Homo sapiens: one gene and its partner. The protein of the gene in region 2 interacts with the protein of the main gene of each other region in a pairwise test. Each region holds a gene or a part of one and is shown on either strand. Other genes may lie near its edges.

Region 1 (3,652 bases), on a different chromosome or scaffold from region 2:
CAGGAGTTCGAGACCAGCTTGAGCAACATACCAAGACCATCTCTACAAAAAAAAAAAAAAAAATTTTTTTTTTTAATTAGCCAGGCACAGTGGTGTGCGCCTCTGGTCCCAGCTACTAGGGAGGGTGAGGTGGGAGGATCACTTGAGCCCAAAGGTTGAGGCTGCAGTGACCGCAATCTCACCACTGCACTTCAGCCTAGGCGATAAAGACTCTGTCACAAAAAAAGAAAAAAAAAGGAGGAAAGAAAAACAAGGATCTCCTGAAGACTGACAGCAAATAAAAGGTAGGAAAGGAAAAAAATTCGGACAAAAATAACTTGCAGTCTGAGGCCAGGTAGCCTGTATCTATCTCAGTCTCCTGAGCTATCACCACGCTAGAAAAGTATAGCAACTGAGATTAAAATAAATCACCCAGAGTTTTGAAGGGTAGCATTTTTAAAGGTAAAAGCTCCAATTATCTGAAAATTTAGCTCAAACAAAAAGCCTGTTTGAAAATGCTCAATAAATGTGTTCATTAGATATTTAATTTTAGAAAGATAATCTCTGAATACTTACCTAAACGGCTACATAATTCTCTACTTGTTTTTAAATCCATTTTCTCCTGTTCCTCAAGTGAGACATCTGGATAAGACACTGTTTTTTGAAGTTTACCACTACTGTGAGCCTTCTCTGACTGTCTTGATATGGACTTACTTGCCTCTGTCTTTGTGAGCTCTTTAGACTGGGATACAGCAGAAGTAAGTGACACATTTGGGGCAACCACTTTATCACACATGTATAAGTAGTAGCTGAAAACAAGTAAAAGCAAAACAAGACATATATTACATATTACAATTAAGTAAAAATCAAATATGTAACATGCATTTCTGTGGTTAAACTTTTTTTTTTCTAACCAAAACAGACAATATTACAACTCAGAAAATAAAGGTCACAGTAAAGAATTCTTAGGAAAAAAATCAACACTTTAGGCATTACAAACAAAATTATAAGGGATTTTTTGTTAGTTTGCAAGTAACCCAGGCTGGAGCGTAGTGGTATGATCATGGCTCACTGTAACCTCTAACTCCTGGGTTCAAGCAATCTTCCTGCCTCAGCATCCCAGGTAGCTGGGACCACACATACCCATTTTTTTTTAGAGATAGGGTCTTGCTATGCTGCCAAGTTGGTCTTGAACTCCTGGGCTCAAGTGATACCCTCCCACCTCCAACTCCCAAAGCACTAGGATTACAGGCATAAGCAACCATAACCAGCTTGCAAGTAATTTCGTGTTTTTTTTTTTTTTTGGCAAGTAATTTCTAAGCACTAAAAAGATACACAGAAGGAAAATCACAGGCTCTTCTCCTTCCCTCAAAACCACCTGAGAATTAAAAGCATTAAGGACTTTATACAGCTGTGTAACAACTCTGAGCAGGTAAGTTTTACTCCAGAAAAAGAATAATCTATAACTACTTTGGAGGACTTTATCTTGCCCACCACCCTTCCAAAGCAGGGAATCTTTGCTTTGGTGAGGCTGCTTCAGTGGCAGACTGCAAGGCTATGTCCTGACTCACAGGAGGCTCAGTGAGGAGCTCCCAGGGCTCTTCTTATATACCTCAGAGAGAGAGCTCTGAATGTCGCCCAGCTACTGGGCAGTTCTTGTATCAAACCCCACTGAGCAATCTTCTTGAAATACTTCACTACTTCCTACTCATTTGATAAAATGGCAACAATAAATTATGCAAAACTAAGATAAAAGAGATTACCAATTTTGACCAAAACTCACATAAAATTGCCCAGTAGACTCATGTGAGAAGCTCATGGGACAAACAAATTTCAGCTAGATATTTAAGTACCATATTTGTAACTATATTCTGAGTAACACTTAGCAAAAAGATGTAACCATTTAAGACTTGACACTCTATCCCCTGAACTCCAGACAATCTCCTCTTACATTTCATTTTCTTTGTACTAAGACATCTATATTGTTCCCCTTTGTTAATAACATCCATTTTTGAGCCAAAATCTCAGTTTTCTGACAGGACAAGAAAATTGACAGGTTTAATAGGGCTCAAAAGACTTACTGCAAATACAACAGGTAAAGTAGTGATTGTACAAATGTAAATAAGACTCAGTCCCCTTATCACCATACTTGGAGGGAATACAGATTTACACTAGTAGAAAAAAATCTAGGGCTCAACAACAAAAAACTTACAATCTAGGGTGAACATTTATTGAAACAGTAAAACTCTGATTTTGAGAAGTACGGTTATTAAGAAAGCTCTTAGTTTCAAAAGAATTTCTTTTTAAAATATCAAAGTTGCAGGCCGGGTGCAGTGACTCATACCTGTAATCCCAGCACTTTGGGAGGCTGATGGCAGGTGGGTCACTTGAGGTCAGGAGTTCGAGACCAGCCTGGCCAACATGGTGAAACCTCGTCTCTTCTAAAAATACAAAAATTAGCTGGGCGTAGCAGCGGATGCCTGTAATCCCAGCTACTCAGGAGGCTGAGGCAGGAGAAATGCTTGAACCCGGGAGGCGGAGGTTGCAGTGAGCCGAGATCATACCATTGCACTCCAGCCTGGGCAACAGAGCGAGACTCCATCTCAAAAAAAAAAAAAAAAAATTGAAGTTGCGGCTCGGGGCGGTGGCTCACACCTGTAATCCTAGCAGCACTTTGGGAGGCCAAGGCTGGCAGATCACCTGAGGTTCAAAACCAGCCTGGCCAACATGGTGAAACCCCATCTCTACTAAAAATACAAAAAAATTAGCCAGGAGTGACAGCTGGCGCTCAGGCTCAGCTACAGGATGCCATGACAAGAGAACTGCTTGAACCTGGGAGGCAGAGGTTGCAGTGAGCCAAGATCCTGCCACTGCACTCCAGTCTGGGTAACACAGTGAGACTTTGTCTCAAAAAAAAAAAAAAAAAAATCAAAGTTGCACACCAAATTCTTGAAGAGTTTGTTTACCTCTTGAAGAAAAGTAAGAAATTAAAGGAGAACTTCCATTTTTTACTTGAGGGCAAAAAGAAAATGACCTATTTCTAGAAAACACATAGAAACACATAGTAAAGGTTATTTCAAATATTCAGTGCAATTTACAATTCATTTCATTTCAGATTCTTTCTTTGAAATTTTTTCTAATAAGAGTAACAATACAATTCACCTACCATTTCCCTATAATGATAAATAGAAACAAAAAATACATTAAATACCAATGTACTTATTTAAAAATAATTTTGAATTTTCTTTTTTTCTTTTTTTTTGAGACAGTTTTGCTCTGTCGCCTAGGCTGGAGTGCAATGACGCGATCTCGGCTCACTGCAAGCTCTGCCTCCCAGGTTCAAGCAATTCTCCTGCCTCAGCCTCCCGAGTAGCTGGGACTACAGGTGCCCGCCACCAGGCCCGGCTAATTTTTTTGCATTTTTAGTAGAGACAGGGTTTCACTGTGTTAGCCAGGATGGTCTCGATCTCCTGACCTCATGATCCACCCACCTCGGCCTCCCAAAGTGCTGGGATTACAGGCATGAGCCACCGCGCCCAGCCTAATTTTGAATTTTCAAAGATAATCTATGATTAACAAGAAAGCCTGAAAATAAAGAAATAAATTCGTGGTCAGGCACAGTGGCTCACACCTGTAATCCCAGCACTTTGGGAGGCTGAGGCAGGCAGATCAC
Region 2 (3,652 bases):
TCTTTTAACCAAGTAATGTTCGCTGCTTTTTTTTTTTTTTTTTAAACTATGAGGTTTTAATGAAAAGGGCTGAATTGACTAAGGTGATTAGTTAGTGAAAAGTGCTGCTCCTTCCCCCGATGACAGAGTCCACTCTTAGTCTTCTAGGTCATCCATCCAGTGCCCACTCAGTCTTGCTTTCACCCTGGTGTGTTATTGCTTGGCCAGCCCCATTGAAATTTCCCTGTTTCATAGCTAATACCCTCAAGGCTCTCTGTGACAAGGTATTCAAGACGGGGGCTAGAAATTATTCTTGAGCAGTGCCTGTGAAACTCTCAGCTTGTGATGTTGCCTCTTATTTCACTGAGTAATTGGAAGCAAACAGGACCTCCACCTGCTCCCAGAACCACAACTTTGCTCCCTGCGACCTTCCTGTGCTCCTAACCTAAGTCCAATCCCTCTCCTCTGGGTGGGACATGTATCGAAGAACGCCCTCTGGCAGTTGTGCGCATTCTCTGCTCCCCACTAACATTTCCTTCTTGACTGGGTTATTTCCAGAAGCGTGCAAACATCCTCTACCATCTCCCACTGCTAGGTGGGACTCTTGTACTCACTTTCCACTCCAGCTGCCACCCCATTTCTCTTTATCTCTTCATAGCAAAACTCCTTGAAAGGATTGTCTATACTTGCTGCATCCATTCCTCCTAGTCTCTGTTGAACTCTGTCCACTGGAGCTTCCCTCCTGAAACATGCTCCCACCCCAGGAACAGTTCCTATCAAGGTCAGCTATGACTTTGACATGCTAAATCCCTGGCCAATTCTCAGTCTTCAACTCATAACCTATAAACAGCATCTGACACAGTTAATGCACACCCTCCTTCTTGTTTTATTTGTCTTCACACCATGTTTAATCCCAACTGACATACTTATACATATATTTGCTGATTTGGTTATATTTACATAAATGCTCATTTTACTATATATAATTGCATATATGCATATATATGTATGTACAAATATATGCATATACAAACATTACATACACACACACATATATACTTATTTGTTTAGAGTCTGTCTCTTCACCCAGAATGTAAACTCATGAAGGCAGAGATTTTCTTTTCGTTGCTGTATCTCCAGTATTTAGGTCAATTTCTGGCACCCAGGATACACTCAATAACTATCTGGTGAATGAATTTTCTCTGGAAGCTTTTGGAATCAATGTTCTGTGCTTTTTAATCTTAATATATTACTGATATTTTGAGTAATGGATTTACTTTATATCATACATCTATGTCTGGCCTATGAGAACAAAACAAATGCTTAGATTTAAATAAGATGTTTGGACTGACTAGATCAATGCTAAATTTATATTAACTTTGCTCAACCAGAGCTTGCTCTAGGTAGGAATTGAAGAGCCCTAATTCAGGCCACTGACCATTGGGAAGAATGGGGCGGTTTGGTGGTGTCTGAAACCTTGTGGCGTGAATGGTGACATCTATTATTCTGTTAAGCCACATGGGCTAACCGGGCATGGGGAAGCATAGTGGGCTTTTGCCAGTATGCAGAGGTAGGTAGCCCCCCCACCACGTCTTTCTTCCTCATGCCCTGTAGACAGACATTGAAGAAGCTAACCTGTGGATAACTTACTTTATTTCTCTGCTTCTCATTTAGATAACCAGCGTGTTCAGAGTTGGCTTCATAAAGCTGCATGAGGATATTCTTGAGCCAGTCTCTCATCCGTAGAGGAAACTGAATCACTTCAAAGTCCGTACAAGTAGGAATAGCTGTTACAAGCAGAAAATGTACTGTAATCTTTGGGCTTATTTGTGTCCTATGGCAAGTCCTCATAATAGGAAGCTTAACGACTTCTGGCAACTGACAGAGCTTTCTCAGGTCCCCATTATTATGACAGTGGTCCTCAGCCCTGGCAGCAGCACAACAAAATTGCCTGGGGTTTTAAAAAACATACCAAATGCCAGCTTCCAATCAAGTAAATTCTGATGTGATTGGTCTGGCGTGAAGTCTGGGCATCAGGATGTTTTTAAAGCTCCAAGATCTATTTGGATGTGCAGCTAGGCCCCAGAATCACTGCTGTAGAATCAGAGTTGAAATTTGTAGGTGGAGGGCACAAGTGCTATTGAATAGAGAAAAAGGTAGCTATTAGCTGATACTACAGTAAGAAATAATGCTAAATCTCAGTGGCTTAAAGAAACAGAAGTCAATTTTGCAATCCTGCTACAAGTCCAATACAAGTTGGCAGGAGGGCTCTGCTCATTGCAGTCTCCCCAGAGCTCAGGATCACTGCCGTTTTTTTTTTTTTTTAATTATACTTTAAGTTCTGAGATACATGTGCAGAATGTGCAGGTTTGTTACATAGGTATACACATGCCATAGTGGTTTGCTGCACCCATCAACCCATCATCTACATTAGGTATTTCTCCTAATGCTATCCCTCTCCTAGTCCCCCAGCCCCTGACAGGCCCTGGTATATGATGTTCCCCTCCCTGTGTCCATGTGTTTTCACTGTTCAACTCCCACTTATGAGTGAGAACATGCAGTGTTTGGTTTTCTGTTCCTGTGTTAGTTTGCTGAGAATGATGGTTTCCAGCTTCATCCATGTCTCTGCAAAGGACATGAACTTATCCTTTTTTATGGCTGCATAGTATTCCATGGTGTATATGTGTCATATTTTCTTTATCCAGTCTATCACTGATGGGCATTTTGGTTGGTTCCAAGTCTTTACTATTGTGAACAGTGCTGTAATAAACATATGTGTGAATGCATCTTTATAGTAGAATGATTTGTAACCCTTTGGGTATATACCCAGTAATGGGATTGCTGTATCAAATGGTATTTGTAGTTCTAGATCCTTGAGGAATTGCCACACTGTCTTCCACAATGATTGAACTAATTTACTCCCACCAACAATATGAAAGCGTTCCTATTTCTTCACATCCTCTCCAGTATCTGTTGTTTCCTGACTTTTTAATGATCGCCATTCTAACTGGTGAGAGATGGTATCTCATTGTGGTTTTGATTTGCATTTCTCTAATGACGAGTGATTATGAGCTTTTTTTCATATGTTTTTTGGCTGCATAAATGTCTTCTTTTTGAGAAGTGTCTGTTCATATCCTTCACCCACTTTTTGATGGGGTTGTTTTTTTCTTGTAAATTTGTATCTGTTCCTTGTAGATTCTGGGTATAAGCCCTTAGTTAGATTGACAGATTGCAAAAATTTTCTCCCATTCTGTAGGTTGCCTGTTTACTCTGATGATAGTTTCTTTTGCTGTGCAGAAGCTCTTTAGTTTAATTAGATCCCATTAATCAATTTTGGCTTTTGTTGCCATTGCTTTTGGTGTTTTAGTCATGAAGCCTTTGCCCATGCCTATGTCCTGAATGGTATTGCCTAAGTTTTCTTCTAGGGTTTTTATGGTTTTAGGTCTTATGTTTAAGTCTTTAATCCATCTTGAGTTAATTTTTGTATGAAGTGTAAGGAAGGGATCCAGTTTCAGTTTTCTGCATATGGCTAGCCAGTTTTCCCAGCACCATTTATTAAATAAGGAATCCTTTCCCCATTGCTTATTTTTGTCAGGTTTGTCAAATATCAGATGGCTGTATATGTGTGGCATTATTTCTGAGCCATCTGCTCTGTTCCATTGGTCTATATATC

What was found. The genes of interacting proteins can lie anywhere in the genome.
Region 1: the proteins of SPARCL1 (region 2) and SKIL interact in a two-hybrid assay, tested with the Homo sapiens proteins (one large-scale study listed by BioGRID).

What each region holds. Positions count from the first base shown.
Region 1 is NC_000003.12:170,381,669-170,385,320, reverse strand, and holds part of SKIL (ski-like protein), read right to left. Parts: intron 789-3,652; coding exon 556-788; intron 1-555. UniProt on the Homo sapiens protein: May have regulatory role in cell division or differentiation in response to extracellular signals.
Region 2 is NC_000004.12:87,480,795-87,484,446, forward strand, and holds part of SPARCL1 (SPARC-like protein 1 isoform 1 precursor), read right to left. Parts: intron 1,767-3,652; coding exon 1,630-1,766; intron 1-1,629.